Linked DNA regions of Homo sapiens. Changing the gene in region 2 together with the main gene of any one other region gives a genetic interaction. Each region holds a gene or a part of one and is shown on either strand. Other genes may lie near its edges.

Region 1 (3,718 bases), on a different chromosome or scaffold from region 2:
TGCAGGCCAGGAGCCAGACTTCCCACAAAGGAAAGAGTGGATCCTACACGCTGCAGACAAAAGGACAGAAAGTTCAGACTTGGCTAGGATAAGGGAAGGAGGATTAAGTTCCCACCACTATGACAATGAGGTTAGAAAAAGTATCGCCAGGCCGGGTGCGGTGGCTCATACCTGTAATCCCAGCACTTTGGGAGGCCGAGGCGGGTGGATCACGAGGTCAGGAGATCGATACCATCCTGGCTAACACGGTGAAACCCTGTCTCTACTAAAAATACAAAAAATTAGCCGGGCGTGGTGGCAGGCACCTGTAGTCCCAGCTACTCAGGAGGTTGAGGCAGGAGAATGGCGTGAACCCGGGAGGCGGAGCTTGCAGTGAGCCTAGATTGCGCCACTGCACTCCAGCCTGGGCAATAGAGCAAAAAACTCCGTCTCAAAAAAAAAAAAAAAAAAAGAAAAGAAAAAGAATTCCCAAATGACAATGACACAGGACATACACACAGTTCTGCTGACACCCGGCACTTTATTAGTGGGGAAACTCGCCTTGGTCTGGCAGAGACTGGGATCAACAGGACCAGCACCCATCTCGAGGTGGTATTTTCTGTAAGATCAGGTGTTCCTCCCTCGTAGGTTTAGAGGAAACACCCTCATAGATGAAAACCCCCCCGAGACAGCAGCACTGCAACTGCCAAGCAGCCGGGGTAGGAGGGGCGCCCTAGGCACAGCTGGGCCCTTGAGACAGCAGGGCTTCGATGTCAGGCTCGATGTCAATGGTCTGGAAGCGGCGGCTGTACCTGCGTAGGGGCACACCGTCAGGGCCCACCAGGAACTTCTCAAAGTTCCAGGCAACATCGTTGCGACACACCGGAGACCAGGTGATGAGCTTGGGGTCGGTCATAAGCGCGGTGGCGTCGTCGCTGGGAGCTGGCAGGGCCTCCCGCAGGAAGGCGAAGAGAGGGTGCGCCCCCGCACCGTTCACCTCGCACTTCTCGAAGAGCATGAAGTTGGGCTCGAACCCACCACCAGGCCGGACGTACTTGAGGGAATTCAGAATCTCTTCGTTCTTGGCGTTCTCCTACAGGAGAGAAGGGCAGCTAGAACCCGGGGTCAAGAGGAGGAGAGAAACGTTCTAACCACAAACAAGGGAGATTTTCTATGAGTCACCGGGATTTTGCCCTCCATGCGCAATCCCAAGGGCGGAGAGGAATTTCAGCAGCTACGAGCAACAGAAAGGAAACGAGAGAGTAGCCAGACTCTCCGCGCATGGAGCCGACGGCACCCACCAGCACACCGCCGGCGCCCCCAGCCACTACTGCACGTCCGCCCCCGCCCCGCCCCGCTCCGCCCGGCGCACCTGATGCCCAAACTGGTTGCACGGGAAGCCGAGCACCACCAGGCCCCGGGGTCCGAGGCGCCGCTGCAGCTCGTTCATCTGGGTGTAGTCCCGGACCGTGGTGCCTCAGAGGGACGCCACATTCTCGATAAGTAGTACCTTGCCCCGCAGGGAGCCCAGGCTCACAGGCTCCCCGCCGGCCAGCGGGCGCGCCGAGAAGGCATACACCGACTGGGCCGCCGCCGCCGCCGCCGCTAGCCGAGCAGCACACATGGCGCAATTGTCCAAGAAGCCAGCGGAGCGCCCCGAACAAGCACTGTAAGGGGAGGCCAGCAGGCGCCTCCTTTTAACTGGCCGGCGGCGGGTCACGTGGCACAGGCAGTTTTCCGGGCCTGAGGGTCCCGCCTCATCCGGCCCCCGCCCTACCCGGAGGGCTCGGCCCCTCCTCAGCCAGGAAAAGGCTGGAGAGTGCGCCCGAGCGGGACGCGTGCTCCTCCTAAGCCGGAAGGAGCAGCAGGCATGTCTGGTCTGGCCCAGGCAACCAGGCGGCAGCGGTCCAGGTTACCCTTCCAAGGGCTGGGGCCCTCGAGGGCTCCGTTTTTTCTCAGAGGTTCCTGAGTTAGGATGTGGGGTTTGGCATAGGAGGCTGGTGGGCGACGGCAGCAGCTGCAGGAGCTGCCCGTGCACAAACAGCCCTCCTCTCCTGTGCCATGTTACCGGCAGTGCAGGGGACAGCCAGAGGGATCTAGGCTTCCGGTCTCCCTCCTCCCTGTCTCCAAAGCGGCACCGCCCTCGTGCGGGTTTTCTAACCGGGCAGAGTCCTGGAAGCTCTGCCCCAGCCTCCTTAAGTGGAGCCCAGTAGCTCGCCGAGGCCAAGGAAACGCTGCCGGAGTCCTCCCTCCCTGGCCTCCTCAGGCTGCATTCACCCTACCCCCAAATCTGAACCAGAATGCGGTACAGGGTAATCATTTCCATGTTGTTGGGAGGGACCAGATTAGCTGCTGGGTGGGTGGGAGGTGGGGCACAAGCTAGTCCTTTGCACTCAACAAACCTCTCCAGGGTGAGCTAGGCCAGGAAGTCCTTGCATCCTCCTACCCCCAGCCCTGGAGAGAGCAACACAAACAACAGGATACAGGAAGTTTAGAAAACTGCCTTTATTCTATTAGTAGTTGGAAAAATTAACTGGTACAGAAAAAAAGTTTAGTCAGCTGGAGAGAAGAGAGACTGAGTGCCACCCATGAGAACTGGTGGCTCCTCTGGGAGGGAACCTGGATACAGTGAGGAGAAAAGAGCACTGTGAATTAGAGCCAGATGCTTAAGTCCAGGTGAGACAGGTTATGCCATCTTCCAAAGTGTCTAATTGCCTCAGGCGTGAAACCAATTCCTATTTACTTAGCCCAGCTCCATGGGGTACTGAGATACATGGGGCCGAAAAGGGGTAATATGGCCATCTTTTATCAGAAAAAGTGACAAAACGGGAATTTAAAAAATGAATTTTCCATCTGACTTTATTTCCAAATACACTTTCTTTTTTAAAAAACCAATACACTTTCTTTGAGGATGACAGTATTAGGAAATCCAATTATACAAAAAATACTACATCTAGTCTGGGGTAGATATATTTATTTTTGGTAACATACATTAAGTGGCACTAATTACACAGTAACTATAAGGTAACTAACATGAAACCACAGAACTGTAACTCTGCCACAGCTGCATGAACTTGGGCTTTTCTGGTTGAGCCCATTTTCAAAAAACTGCCCACCCCAGAGCTATGCCAACAAAATCTGTTACGGAGTAAAGCCCTGAAGTGGTGACTCACCAGAGTACCTTGCAGCTGACAGATAATAGGCAGGACATGTTAGTTATAAAGTAGTTACAGCCTAATTCACAAAAGTTACCAACTGTTTCTCTTTCTAGAAAGAAGCAAGAAGTTAAGAAATTCCTTGAATTAGCGCCTGGTGTGTCAGGTGGGAGTGCAGAGGAGGGCTGTTAGAGCAGTGTCAAAAGGACCCTGGTGGGCCAGACGGGTTGGACATCGTTAATAATCATAGTTGGCTTCTAAATACTGGTAGCAAGATGACTTCTGATTTGTAATCTTAGGTAAATTATAGATAAATGAAAAAGGCCAGTAATCATACACTAAGATTAATAAACAGCACTTCAAAATTAACCGCATAAGGGCTGTGCTTGCAGCAAGGTTTCACAAGACAAGGCACCCAGATTTTTTCTTCCCACGTCTAGCTTGCAGAGCAGCTCTCGTAGCCATTTCAAAAACCTCTCTCACTCCATCTTTGGTCTTTGCTGAACACTCCATGTACCCAAAAGCGCCAATCCTGTTTGCCATATCTCTGCCTTCTTCAGGTTTCACCGGCTCCTAGCAAAGAA
Region 2 (4,862 bases):
CTGTGGAAGCGCCGCCCGTCATGGGAGAGGTAATACAGAAAGTCCATGTGCTGGAGGATATGCTGGCTTCTTTTCTCTACAAGGGCACTGAGCTCCAAGATGGTGGCAATATATTCACTGGGCCTCCTGCAGAGCAAGGGCAGAAAGGGAGGCAACAATGTAACGTATGCAAAGCCCCAGGAACACCTCCCACCAGCAGCCAGGAGCTACCTCCCATCAGGAAACTGAGTATCTAGAAATAGATGGTCCTAGAGATACATGGTGGGTATCAGTCATGAGACTGACTCTCTAGACTGTCTTCTCTCCCTGCATCCTATCTCTGAGAGAGCTGTCTCCATGCACCTAGGCACCTAGAGTATAGCTTGGACACCATGCTTCTCTCCTCTGTCTCCCATCCAGTATGCAGTACTGATCATTTTCCTTACCAAAACTGTCCACACAACTCAGACTTCATCCTCTTCCAGTTCAGCCCTGCTCCAGCCCCCAGCATAACCAACTCTCTCTCTCTTTCTCTCTCTCTCTCTCTGTCTCTCTGTCTCTCTCTCTCTCCCTCTCTCTTTCACCCTGTAAGAAAGAAGAAGCAGCTGGGCACAGTGGCTCATGCCTGTAATCCCAACATTTTCTGAGGCCAAAGAGGGCACATCACCTGAGGTCAGGAATTTGAGACCAGCCTGGACAACATGGTGAACCCCCTCTCTACTGAAAATACAGAAATTAGCTGGGCGTGGTGGTGGGCTATCAGTTTCCCACACAGCTCAGCTCTTATCACATCCATCATCAGCTGAAACTACAAAAGGTCTCTGGAAATGTCTTGATAAACTTCATACCACTTTTCCTGATTTTCAGTGCCCTTAATATCTAGCCCCTACTTCCACAACCTCATTTCTACTGTCTCTTGCACATGCTTGGCTCATCCTAACCTTCTTGCTTTTACACACATATTTCTACCTGGAAAGACAGCACTTTCTCCTCTTCCTCGACCTTCAAAGCACAGCTATGATACAAATCCTCCCGAAAGGTACTTCTGGTTACTTTGCTCATTCCTCCCTCCCCAACTTTCTCCCTTTGGTCCATGGATTCATATCCCAGGCCCTAGGAAGGAACTCACTCCTGACAATGGCTGTCAAAGCTGAAGATGCATTTCTGTAGACTGTCCAAGGTCATGAGGCTGATGTGCTCAAACATGTCCAGACGACTGCTGCCCTCTGAGGCCAGGTGCTGCCACTTGTCCTGGCCAGAGAAGGGAAGAGAGCTAGAGCTGGGCCCTGCCTCCTTTGTGCCCCTCCCCAGTCCCAAACATCAGGATGGACTCCCCCACAACCAGCCTCCTGGTCCTCTGCCCCAGGAACCCATTGCCAGCGAGGACCAGACTGGGATGCGAGCAGAAACTGTTAGTATAGGAGATGAAGACCCATGGCTTGGAGTCAAGAGACCTGCATTCAAGTCTCAGCTCTGTCTCCTATGCTCTATGTGCCCTTGGTCAACATATTGCCCTCCTCTAGGTCCCACCTGTCAAATATTCAATAACGGTCAAGGTGATCTGCTTTGGGGCCAGATAAACCAGGATAGAATCTCTGCTCCACCAGTCCTAGCTCACTTCCTGGCTGGTTGAACTCTGTCCAGCTCCCTAATCTCTCTGGCCCTCAGTTCATCATCTGCAATAGGACAAAAATAACCATAACCTCACAGGATTATTAAAATTAACTTAGACAACTTATATCCTGGCATTGGGACATGACATTTTCTCAGGCATATGATGAGTAAATGTTTGCTTTATTCATCTCCATTGTAATAAATTCATTTCAAAAATATCCCTGTGTTGGAAGAGGCACTTCTTCATCAGCCCTGAGCATCCTTGCTGCGTATGCCACCAATGCAAGACTGTGATGTTCTTACCTGAGCCATTTCTCAGAGTTGTATTTGCAGATAACCACCTGGAGAGATAAGGCAATGACTCCTCCTGGACCAATATCAGGCTTGTTTCTGCCACTATTAAAGTAGATTCCCTAAGCCTAATGCCCATTGTATGTCATGCAATGTACTGCATGAGCAGGCTAATGTAGAGGCCCACCAGTGTCACCCCCATGGAATTTAGGTTGACTCAGAAAAAGGATACAAACCAACAAGAAGTACATGTTGCTTATTGTGCCATGAGTAATCAACTACCCTTTGTCTCTGACCCAGGAATCTGTTAGAATGCATGAGACAGTAACAAGCTAACTTATCAGTTTGCATATTTAAAACAAATCCTAGACACTTCACAAAATCCTGACCCCCAATTCTTCACTTCTCCCTGTATTCGTACCCTTTCCACAGTAATTTTTCAGCAACTCCCATTAAGAGATGCGTTCTATTTTACACCCCTTTGAGTCTGTACTGGACTTTTGACTTTCGACTTTCTTTGGCCAGTACAATGTGGTGAAATGATGATGTAATAACTCTAATAGACTCAAACCTGGTTGAACTTTGAAGTATTGCAGAGACAATGTCCACAGACATTGCAGCCTCCTCTCAGTTTCTCGGAGCCCAGTCTCTGCCATGTGAACAACAGGGTGCCTTCTGGAGGCAGAGAATCACATGGGGGAAAGTCCAGGTGTCACAGCTGAGCCCATCCCAGATGAGTCTGAAGGTACTGAAGCCCCAAACGTGAATGAACTGAGCCAGGATCAGCAAAGCTGCCCCCCGACCCACAGCTGCTCATGTGCCAAGAGTGATCCCTTCCACATCCAGAAGAACTGGCCAGCTGTCTCACAGACTCGTTAGCAATTGTAAACCCTTATGGCTCTAAGCCAATGAGTTCTGAAGTGGTTTATAATCAGCAATGACTACTACACAATCTTCATTTTTACTCTCTTGAGTTTACAGGGATTCTGTGAGAAAAACACAGAAACTGACACCTTCTGAGAACCTACTGTGTGCCAAGTAAATGACCTTTCAAGTAGGGATTATCATCCCCATTTTACAGATGAGGAAACCAAGGCTCAGAGAGGAAGAGCAATGGCCCAGTGCCACCCAGAAGAGCCAAAATTCCAGACCAGATGTGTCCATGGTCCCTCCACCCCAAGACTCCATCTGGGACCCAGACTTCAAGGGACTCACAAGCATGATGTTTGCACTCTTGTTGAAGATCGTTATATAGGACTTCAGGATGTTGAAATGGAAGGCGGGCGTCAGCATCCGACGGTGGCGGCTCCACTTGTCACCGCCACTCAGCAGTATCCCTTCTCCTAGTAGGGCAGCCAAGGACAGTGGGCAAGAGCAGCACTTCCCCTACCCTCCCCGCAAGGTTGTCCCCAACCCCTTTCACCTGCAGGTACTCACCCAGCCAGGGCTTCAGGAACCTGATGAAGAGATTATCCTTGGGTGCAATGGCAGCTGACATGAACGAGGACCATCAGGGGCCATGTAGAGGGCAAGAGAGGAACTTCAGGTATAGGGCAAGGCTGCCTACCAGCACTTTCCCCACTCCATGCCCAGCATAGCAGGAAGGGGGCCAAGGGCAAAGGACGAAGGGAGGATAGAGGAAGAAGGACCAGCCCAGGCTGCAACAGCACAGTAAAGCTATGACACAACCTAACAGGTCATAGCACACCCCAGCACGCCTTGACATGGCTCCTATATATCCCAACATGTTCTGCAACAACTGAACACAGCTCCACACTCTACAAAATACCTTTAAAGGACCTCGGACACCCTGTCTGCCATAGCACTCTCTGTCATCTCCTGACATGGACCTGAGATAGTCTGACATGACCTCTGTGTACCCCACAGACAGGCCCCAGATAGGGTTTAAATGTGATTTCTTAAATGTCCCAGACATGTCCCAGGTGGAACCAAGAGTTTTCTTCAAGCGTGATTAGAATGGATTCCGAAACCTGGCTCAGGGAGACTAAAATAATAACTCTGACAATTCCAAAGAGACCCTAGCTCCCAGACCTTGGACAAGCTACAAACATGGCCAAGAGATGACAAGGAGGAGAAAAGACAATTTCAAATCACATGTCAGAGAAGAACCAGAAAGTCTCTGACATGCCCCAAGTGTCCTCGACCACAGCTGAGCCACACACATGATGACTTCTCCATATGATCCCAGGTTAAACAGAAAAGATATAACCAGGTATAATATTGAAACTATAGGCGGCTATTTATGGGACCCCTGGGGGTAAGGTGAGCTTTCGGACAAGAACTGAGCTGCTAGGACCCATGGTTGACAGATAAGAGAACGGCTGCCTTAAAAGAAAAAGTGATGCAGAGAAATGGTGAAATTAAGAAAAGGAGACAGATCCCTGATAATGTTCATTGACACCTGGATTCAGCCATGCCTGAAGACCACCCTCCCTGAAATTTACACTCCTTTGACTCTCTTTATTTGCTTAGAGCACACGAAGTTGAGTTTCCATCACTCACAACTGAAAGAGACCTCAGCAGCCAGAGAGCTGGTGACCTGCACAGAGTCACTAAGGATTTGGGGGTCAGAGCCATAGATTTTGTGGGATGCTGCCACTTCCCTAGCTCAGCCTGGTGTGTCCAAGGATGAGAAGAGCAGAGAGCAAGGGGAGGTCAAGCAGCTGGTGTGGGTTCTCCTATTGGAGAATCCTGAAGCCCATAGGAGGAGAGCAGGAAACTTAGGGTGGATGAGTGATAGGATGAGGTAGAAGGAACTGACCCATCATAGGTGGATGTCACATAAATAGCAGCCCAGATTCTCCACCAGCCACAAATCCTCCTACCGCTTTGGACTGAGGGATGGGCAAGGCTGGTGCAAGGACTGGCTGGGACCCCAAATACCAATGATGCCCACTGCATCATCCTGCCCCACACTTAAAAAATCCTACTTATTGGTCTAGACATAGCTCCAACAA
Region 3 (4,840 bases), about 26 Mb from region 2:
GGGTGAGAAAGCGAGAGAAGCCTGGGGAGGCGAGGGGAGGGTCACAGAAACATAAGGAGTTTAGGGTTCTGCTGAAAGGTTTGGGGCAGAGGTGGGAAAGGGTTTGGTTTGAGATTGGGAAGAAGCCTTCTGACTGTTGAGTGGGAGACAGGTTGGAAGGAGCAACAGAAGCCAGCAGCCCATGGCCGGGCACAGTGACCCACGCCTGTAATCCCAGCCCTTTGGGAGGCCGAGGCGGGCAGATCACGAGTTCAGGAGTTCCAGACCAGCCTGGCCAACATGGTGAAACCCCGTCTCTACCAAAAATACAAAAATTAACCTGGCATGGTGGTGCACACCTGTAATCCCAGCAACTCAGGAAGCTGAGGTGGGAGGATCACTTGAACCCAGGAGATGGAGGTTGCAGTGAGCCGAGATCGAGCCATTGCACTCCAGCCTGGGCAACAAAGCAAGACTGGGTCTCAAAAAAAAAAAAAAAAAAAAAGACACAGCCCAGGGAGACAACGGTGAAGGGCCCTAAGTGGCCAGTGACAAGGAGCTGGGAGCTTGCCCTGAGGGCAGCAGGAGGCCATGGGCAAGCAGAGAAGGGACAGGGTAGGATTTGACTTTCAGAAACAGTCCTCTGGTTGCTAAATGGGAGAAAGGAGTGACAGTAGAGGCAGGAGAAGGCAGGATCAGACGGGGGTGCTGGGAAGGGGCAGGTAGAAGAGACATCAGGAGGCCAAACAGATAGGACTTTATGATGCACCGTAGGTATACCAGTACCCAAACACAGGTGGCCAAGAGCAGAGGGATAGACGCCCAGCCTCCTCCTCACAGACATCCAGGCATGCAGAGCCCTCCACGTGCCAAACACACAGGGCCGAGGAATGGAAGTGCAGCAGAGCCGATACGCAGGCAGCAGATCTGCAATAACCAGGACACACAGTCCCACCAGAAGGAGAGAGCAGTGGAATGATCAGGGCTCACTGCAGCCTCGATCTCTTGGACTCAAGCGTTCCTCTCACTCCAGCCTCCCTAGTAGCTGGGACCACAGGCACACGCCATGATACCTGGTTAAGTTTTAATTTTTAAACTTCTTGTAGAGATGGGGGTCTCAGTGCATTGACCAGTCTGGTCTCGAACTCCTGGGCTCAAGCGATCCTCCCACCTTGGCCTCCCAAAGTGCTGGGATTACAGGAGTGAGTTACTGTGCCCGGCCAACAACTATTCTTATTCCCATTTTACAGATGGACAAACTGAGGCTCAGGAGGCCAGTCACTTGCCTGTAGCCCACAGTTAGTGGTAGCACTGGGATTCCAACTTGGGTCCCCTTCATGTCGCCTGTATTTGGTGTCCCATTTAGGCGTCCATGCAGGTTTTGGCGTGTCTGAAGATCTGTGTCTCCCCAAGTAAGTGTCCCCCATGGATGCCCACCCAGCCGTGTCCTCCTGTCTCTGAGGTTTCTCCAGGAATCGAGCTCCTGGCCTGGCTTGTCTGAGTGTGTCTGTGGGCCAGTAGCATGCCCCTGCCCGTCTGGGTCCCTCTGCGTGTCTCTGCTTGTCCTAGCCTGTGTGTGTCAGTGACGTCTAAGAGTGTGTGTGCGTGCGTGCGTGCGTGCGTGTGTGTGTGTGTGTGTGTGTCCTTGTCCGAGGAGCCGAGAGAGTGAGGGGGAATGAAGGGCCAAGGAGGCCTGGCTGGGGCTGGGCTGGGGGTGGAGGCGGGGAGAGGGGCGTCACGGCCTGAGCTGAGAGGGGAGTGGAGTTCTGGAGGAATGTTTACCAGACACAGAGCCCAGAGGGACAGCGCCCAGAGCCCGGATAGAGAGACACGGCCTCACTGGCTCAGGACAGGGGGCACAGCCACCAGGGTCCCCTTCCCCCTCCTCAGCTCCCTCCCTGGCCCCTTTAAGAAAGAGCTGATCCTCTCCTCTCTTGAGTTAACCCCTGATTGTCCAGGTGGCCCCTGGGCTCTGGCCCTGGTGGGCGGAGGCAAAGGGGGAGCCAGGGGCGGAGAAAGGGTTGCCCAAGTCTGGGAGTGAGGGAAGGAGGCAGGGGTGCTGAGAAGGCGGCTGCTGGGCAGAGCCGGTGGCAAGGGCCTCCCCTGCCGCTGTGCCAGGCAGGCAGTGCCAAATCCGGGGAGCCTGGAGCTGGGGGGAGGGCCGGGGACAGCCCGGCCCTGCCCCCTCCCCCGCTGGGAGCCCAACAACTTCTGAGGAAAGTTTGGCACCCATGGCGTGGCGGTGCCCCAGGATGGGCAGGGTCCCGCTGGCCTGGTGCTTGGCGCTGTGCGGCTGGGCGTGCATGGCCCCCAGGGGTGAGTGATGGGGGCTCCTTGGGGCAGGGATCCCCTCGGAGGGGCTGGGGCAGGGGTAGGAGGTGGGGGATGATGGCAGGTGTGGGGGGCCTGGGCTGGCTTAGGGAGTTTCCTTGGGACCACAGAAAAGGGACTTCAAGGGAGGGAGACACAGACTCAGAGACACCAAGTGCGGCAGAGGGAGAGAAAGACTGAGAGAGGAACTGAAGGGCAGGGGGGACAGAAGAGAGGACCCGGAGAGACAGACAGACAAGGAGAAGCTGAGGGCAGGGGTGGGGGCTGGACCTGAGAAGGGGGCCATGGGGAGAGGGGCTGAGCTGAGGGTCGCCAGGAAGGAAGAAATCTTTCCGAAGGGGCACCGAGTCAGGCAGTGGGATGAGGAGGGCTCTGGAGCCCTGGGGGAAAACGCTTCTCCCTGCCAACACCACCCCCCTGACCCGCCACTTGTCCCTACCCCACCAGTCCACTCCATCTCTGGGGAGGAGGCTCTCACTTTGTCTCTCTGTCTCTGCCTCCAGCTCTGCTATCTCTGTGGGTCTCTGTTTCTCTCTCTTTCACAGTCTCTGCCTTTATCTCTCCCTGCTCTCTGAGTCTCTCTCTCTCTTCTCAGCCTCCCTCTGTGACTGTATCCCCCCTCCGCCCCCACCTTTTCTTCTCTCTTGAGGGCTGTTTCTTCATTTTTTCTGTCTTGCCTTGTATCTGTGCTCCTCTCTGTCTCATCTCCCCTGCCTTTCTCTGGCTTCTCCCTCCGCCACCACCCTTATCTCCCCCCACCACCACCCTTATCTCTCTCCCCCAACCCCTGATTCTTCCCCTCCATCCACCAGCACCAGCGCGACCTGTTAAGTCTCTAGAGACCTAAGAGAGGACGGAGGGGGCAGGGGCTGGCCCTGCCAGGCAGTGCAGGGCGTGGGAGGCTGCCAGATCCCGAGCCTCCTTCCCGACGGGATGGACGCTAGATCCCAGTCCCTTGGGAGGGCTCCCGTCCTCCTCTCAGAGCCTCCGCCCTCCACCCCACTCTGAGGTCACTCTGCAACTATGTCGGCCTAAGGGCCTGGCGGGGTCCTGGCCGCCGGTGGGCAGGCAAGGACAGGGTGGAACTGAGGGCCGGAAGGAGCTGGGGGGTTCCTAAGCTAACTCTTCCCATCTCCCCTCCAGGCACGCAGGCTGAAGAAAGTCCCTTCGTGGGCAACCCAGGGAATATCACAGGTGCCCGGGGACTCACGGGCACCCTTCGGTGTCAGCTCCAGGTTCAGGGAGAGCCCCCCGAGGTACATTGGCTTCGGGATGGACAGATCCTGGAGCTCGCGGACAGCACCCAGACCCAGGTGCCCCTGGGTGAGGATGAACAGGATGACTGGATAGTGGTCAGCCAGCTCAGGTGTGTGGCCACATCCCCGAATCCCACTCCCACCTCCGTCACACAGAGGGCAGAAAGCCCACCTGGGTGGGAACCCCAGTTTGACCACTTGTCAGCCGTGCGGCTTTGAGCATGTGATGGAACCTCTAGGTTTCGTTTTCCTCTTCTGCAAAATGAGTTAATAATAGGACATACTTCGTGGTTGTCATGAGCTTCCAGACTGGACACCCTCTTTCCGTTCTGACAGACCCCCTCCCAGTGTCCAGCTCTGACCCTGAACCTCTCTGTCTCTCCTCTTGCCCTGTCAGAATCACCTCCCTGCAGCTTTCCGACACGGGACAGTACCAGTGTTTGGTGTTTCTGGGACATCAGACCTTCGTGTCCCAGCCTGGCTATGTTGGGCTGGAGGGTGAGCTCTGGGGTCAGGGGTCCTGAGGGGTCAGAGGACATGTGGCGCTCATAGGTTGTGGGAAGTCAGGAATCCTGAGGGGTCAAGGTCAAAGGGTGCTGGAGGATTCAGGATGAACCTAGCGTCATACAGCCTAAGAATGTCAGAGTTTTGGGTGGTCAAGAAGCTGGGAGTCCATATAAGTTATGGTGCCAAGGCTGGGGGATTATATGTTCTGGGTGAAAAGACTTCTTGGGGGTAGTTGGATGTCCTAGGCATCAGACACCATCAGGTCACAGGAGGCCATTCTGGTCTTCAGATAAGGCGTCAGAGGCACGCAACGTACCCCTGTCCCCACGACCCCAGCGGTCTCTTTTTTCTCATCCATAGAATGAGATGAGGATGAGCTGTCAGACATTCTGGAAGAGAGACATGAGGAGCTCAGCTATCGTGGGGGGTCTGACATGGGAGGAATCAGATATTGGGGTCACGTGTGTGTTGGGTATGGCTCAGGTGCCCTCGGGGATCAGATAAGGCAAGTCAATGACCCTGCAGGGTGGGTTTGCTGCCCAAAGCCTACAGCATCCTAGTGGTGAGTCAGGCATCTTGGGGCCTCAGAGGGACCCCAGCCTCTACCACTGCCCACCCCGCTAGGCTTGCCTTACTTCCTGGAGGAGCCCGAAGACAGGACTGTGGCCGCCAACACCCCCTTCAACCTGAGCTGCCAAGCTCAGGGACCCCCAGAGCCCGTGGACCTACTCTGGCTCCAGGATGCTGTCCCCCTGGCCACGGCTCCA
Region 4 (4,744 bases), on a different chromosome or scaffold from region 2:
TCCTGTCATCTGCAGTGACTTCGTCAAATTCCTGGCCCAGTATGAAGGAAATCTCAGTATTTTTAAAGGTACTTTCAGATTTAATGGTGATCACATCCCCATTCACACTGATGATCATGTTAGGTTTGGCCATGCCAGCCACTTTCCTGGTGGCAAAGCCCACTCCTACAGTTAGGAAAAGAAAAGATGTCAGATTTACATTTTCTCTCACGTACTTATCCAAGTCAGAGAATGTGTGTGTGCACACAGGTGCATGTGCAGGAGGAAAAAGGCACAGAGAGTTTCTTAAAGGCCTAATTTAAACAGCTCCTGCAGATAAAATCAGGCCAATACTTAAAAAAAAAAAAAAAAGAAAACCCACAAAGAAAACAAAAACACAACCTCTGAGAAACAATAGGTGTAGGCCTATTCTTTAAACTTCCCTTTCTCTGGTCTGGATACAACTTCTCAGGAGACCCATTGTTTATTTTCAACAAAAATATGTATAAAGGTTAAGTGGTTGGGAAGATATATATTTAAAATGTTAGCCACTGTTATTTTTCTCTCTTAATAAAATACTTGAGGCTACTTGACCATTCCATCTTAGATACTCAATATTACATTTAAGAAGGCACAAAGACAGAATTTTCAACAGAATTTTGGGGGTTAATGTAGAGTTATTTAGTTAAAGGTTCGTCTGTTTTGAGTATACAAAAGTCACATTTCATAGCATTTGTTGCCAAGTCTACTTTTCTGTGCTTCTTTCTCAAATTACTCCACCATGAAATGAAGATTTTCATGAATTTCTACAAAAGGCAAAATGTTTCCTACATTTATAACATTTTAGAATGGTGATATCATTGCTAATAATTTATAGGGGATATTTAAAAGGGACTAGTCATCAAATTGTGAAAACTTTAACATTTAATAAATCACTATTTCTTAGTTTAAAATAGGTTAGAAGCCAATACTTTGATTTCCAGTCACCTAAGTTGTGAACTTTTCTTTCTTAAAAAGGGGAATATATTTTCTTGTGCAAGGTATGGAATGAATAATTTACAGCCTAACATAGCAGTAACTTGCTGACACTGTGTATGTCATGCAGAGTTTATGGCAGTCATAGATTTGCTGAATTTTTTAAACATGTGCATGTAAATCTAAGCTCTTTCTTTGACTAAAGGCAACCAAAGGTTAGAAATTGGGAAGAACTGGGAGAGATATATGGCGCAAAATAAGTAATGCTGAGGCTCCGATTTGGCTGTCTGTCTGAAAAATGGCCACAGGTGTGTCTTCATGTCCTGGCTCAGTTACAAAATATAACATTAAATGTATGAAGTGAGTCCACTTCGTGAATGCAGGCAAAACTGAGTGTGATTCTAGAATGACTGACCTTGGGAAAAACCAGTCTCCATTTGCTTGATTTTGCTTTTATTTGATGATGAAGACAATACCTGCCCACTCATCCTCAATTACAGCAGCTAATTTCATGCAGAAGGTGTTTTATTGACTTTAATTATAATCAGCCCTTTATAATTTAAAAACACAGTATTATTAGAAAATATAAATATTAAAAGTATAACATTTTTCTAAAAATAAATAGTTAAATGGCCCCAAATCCTGGCTTTTCTGCATCAGTGCATATTAATTAGTTTATTGAATCACTCTAGTTTATTCTAGAAAGTCTCTCTCATGCTGAAGTCACCAATTTCCCTATCATCTAAAAACAAGAAACATAGTTACAGACAAGCAAAAAAATATATACTGTATAATTTACAGGAGGGTTAAGTGTTTTGCGATTTAATGATTACATTCTAAACCCTAAGATTGCATAAAATTCCTCCCCAGTTTGCTAACCCCAGTTCTGACTTTATTGGACTGTCATGCATGGGGTTGAGGGAGAAAGGTTTTCAAAGTAGAAGCTGCCTGAGTGAGAAGTTGTCTTTTCTGATTTACCTCCATAGTTATCTGAGAGACATTCATCCAATGACATGCTGACAGTTAACAGCGTCTAAAAAATTAAAAACCTCTACTATCAAAGAAGAGGTATGTTATATGCGTAACATTCTCCTTTTAAATTGGTTGATAATTCTATGGCATACTATGTCATTTCTAGTCAAAGGAAGTATTTAAGCCATTTAAGAAACATATTTTCTGAAATTAAAATTTTTGTCTATCATAAAACAACCACATATTTTAATAGATTAACATTGAGACAAGAAAATAATTGGCTAACATACGGTTACTGAAAAAGAACCTTGCATTAAGGGAACTAGAGTGCTTTCAGTTTGAAATGAAAATTATTGCATACTAACTTTTTTCCAAGTTATTGCTTAATTTACATGCAAAAGGGGATGAAAGAGAAACAGGCAAAGAGCTAAGTAAACCAAGGATACCCAAGTTTTTCAAATAAAGTCAAATCTTATCATTTCTAAAGACAATAAACATTCCATTTAGACACCTTTTTATATTGGTACACCTTTAGGAAACATTAGTTGTAGCTTTGGTTCAGAATTTCTCTAGAAACAAATGATTATCACTTGCTATGTGTGCAGCCTCTCTATAGAAAGCAGCATTTTTCATTTCTGGCCAGGGCTTCCAGACATTGCTATAAACACAGCTGTAAACTCTTTTTCCCAAAAGAAAATATTATAAATCCAGTCATTCCACAACGCATTTCCTTACCTACTTCTTTCATATAATCATCAAAGTTTTCACTGGAGACAAGTTTCCAGGTACCTACAAAAGCATCACACATTTTGTGAGTTTTCTAGGATTATTCTTCAAGGTGAGAAGGAAGCTGCAGTTTTCAGGAGGGTGCTGTGACCCTCTTGAGTCCAGATAACTTCCTTTTAAAGATGCTCAGAACATGTGATCTTAGGAATGACCAATTGGGAATGAGATCCAATCATTTCCTTCATTACCGGCCTCTGCATTTTTTTCTCTGAGTCATGTTTTTAATAGAAATTTCTCAACTTTGGTTCTCCCTGGCAAATAGTCACTGGACTTAGAGTACAAATTATTTTTAAACCACTAACAGGATATTTTAAACATTCCTGTTTTGACAGCTTAATGCTCAGTGCACTGAATTTCCCCCTATTATTCCTATACATATTTATCCCAGTGTAGAGAGGGGAAATTATTTTGAGATAAACTTCGACCTTATTTTGTGTGTGTGTGTGGGGTGTTATTTAAATTGCAGTTATGTGGTTCTTTTGAATTGAGGAACATAAGAACTGCCTCGGAGATTCTTACATAATTGCAAAGGCTCTTCGGGACACTCCTGTCTCAGGAATTACCTGGCGATTAAAACAAAATAAATAATGGGATTTAAAAGTACTCCAGATTTCTGATTTCAAATGTTTTATATGAATAAAAAAGTACATTCAATTCATCCACCAGTAATCTGGACTGTAGATTTAATCGAAATGATAATTTAACCTCACTCTTTCCATCTCCTAAATGAGAGCATAGCATTGATTTCCACAGATCCTTTGAAAAATAGGCCTTATTCTAAAATACTTTCCTCATATTGAGAAACTGCATTCAATTTCTGAACTGTATTATAAGTTCTGAATTTATTCAGATCAGAAATGGTGTGTGGTCACAAGCTACCAAAACCAATATCCTTCTTTTATACAGTGACCAATCTGTGAAACTAGTTTTCTAAAGTAATCGTGGTTTTCAATTCCCTTTGCCTCATGCAAGAATGACAGAAGTTGTTCACATGTGCTGCAAATTCCCACGAACATACCCAGATTTAGGGGAAAAAAAGAAACTAAAATATTTCAGAGTGATGCATCGCTACACTGTGTATCCCACTGAACAGTACCTGCTGAGCATGTGATTGATTCACAAGCCTGTGTAAGTGTCCTGAGGGCTTCCCAAAAATGTTTGTGGCAGGAAATTCTGTAAGCAACAGGATTTTCTGTAGGAAAGCAAGTTGCTATGAAAGCCTGATAAAGTTAGGTTTTGCATTTGTTAATGGCACAGTAATAACGCTCATCTACTCTGGACTGTTGCATAGATACACAGACTGTGGTGATGTACCATCCAGGTAGGCTTGCTATTAGTGATCCACCTGTTTCCCATTGAATAAGACTGTTCAGATGGAAAGTAAATAAAAGTGACAAATCTTAATAGAGGGATGTTTTTGATAATGTTTTAAATTAATTTGCTTCCTACAGGTTTTTAAATGATTGAATTTGAATACATACTATGTGTATTCTAACACTGCAATTTGGTTTTTTAAAATTTTTGTTTCTATAGATTTCGGACTACATGTGCATTTTTGTTACATATGTATATTGAGTTGTAATAAAGTCTGGACTTTTAGTGTAATCATCACCCAAATAGTGTATATTGTACTCAATTGGTAATTTCTTTCTTTTTTTTTTTTTTTTTTGAGATGGAGTTTTGATTTTATTGTCCAGGCTGGAATGCAGTGGCGCGATCTTGGCTCACTGCAACCTCTGCCTCCCAGGTTCAAGCGATTCTCCTACCTCAGCCTCCCTAGTAGCGGGGATTACAGGTGCCCACCACATGCCTGGATAATTTTTTTTCTCATATTTTTAGTAGAGACAGGGTTTCGCCATGTTGGCCAGGCTGGTCTTGAACTCCTGACCTCAGGTGACCCACTCGCCTCAGTCTCCCAAAGTGCTGGGATTACAGGCGTGAGCCACTGTGCCCGGCCCTGATAGGTAATTTCTTATCCCTTGCCCCCTCCCACCTTCCCACCTTCCCACCTTTTGGAGTCTCCAATTGTCTA

What was found. Genes that interact genetically often act in the same process or in processes that back each other up.
Region 1: changes in CYP4F12 (region 2) and GPX1 together harm fitness more than expected from each alone (negative genetic interaction), as found in Homo sapiens cells (one large-scale study listed by BioGRID).
Region 3: changes in CYP4F12 (region 2) and AXL together harm fitness more than expected from each alone (negative genetic interaction), as found in Homo sapiens cells (one large-scale study listed by BioGRID).
Region 4: changes in CYP4F12 (region 2) and FABP4 together harm fitness more than expected from each alone (negative genetic interaction), as found in Homo sapiens cells (one large-scale study listed by BioGRID).

Annotation. Positions count from the first base shown.
Region 1 is NC_000003.12:49,356,676-49,360,393, forward strand, and holds GPX1 (glutathione peroxidase 1), read right to left. Parts: upstream 1,679-3,718; 5' UTR 1,604-1,678; coding exon 1,490-1,603; coding exon of another isoform or gene 1,307-1,489; exon of another isoform or gene 1,214-1,306; coding exon of another isoform or gene 1,151-1,213; exon of another isoform or gene 1,092-1,150; coding exon of another isoform or gene 1,073-1,091; coding exon 713-1,072; 3' UTR 501-712; downstream 1-500. Other genes in the region: transforming protein RhoA isoform 1 precursor, read right to left, coding at 3,534-3,707.
Region 2 is NC_000019.10:15,678,757-15,683,618, reverse strand, and holds part of CYP4F12 (cytochrome P450 4F12), read right to left. Parts: intron 3,376-4,862; coding exon 3,322-3,375; exon of another isoform or gene 3,228-3,321; coding exon 3,100-3,227; intron 2,930-3,099; exon of another isoform or gene 1,906-2,929; coding exon of another isoform or gene 1,897-1,905; exon of another isoform or gene 1,510-1,896; intron 1,231-1,509; coding exon 1,109-1,230; intron 127-1,108; coding exon 1-126. UniProt on the Homo sapiens protein: A cytochrome P450 monooxygenase involved in the metabolism of endogenous polyunsaturated fatty acids (PUFAs).
Region 3 is NC_000019.10:41,217,183-41,222,022, forward strand, and holds the start of AXL (tyrosine-protein kinase receptor UFO isoform 1 precursor), read left to right. Parts: upstream 1-2,040; 5' UTR 2,041-2,210; coding exon 2,211-2,295; intron 2,296-3,453; coding exon 3,454-3,676; intron 3,677-3,963; coding exon 3,964-4,064; intron 4,065-4,697; coding exon 4,698-4,840. UniProt on the Homo sapiens protein: Receptor tyrosine kinase that transduces signals from the extracellular matrix into the cytoplasm by binding growth factor GAS6 and which is thus regulating many physiological processes including cell survival, cell proliferation, migration and differentiation.
Region 4 is NC_000008.11:81,480,434-81,485,177, forward strand, and holds the start of FABP4 (fatty acid-binding protein, adipocyte), read right to left. Parts: upstream 2,801-4,744; 5' UTR 2,735-2,800; coding exon 2,662-2,734; intron 166-2,661; coding exon 1-165.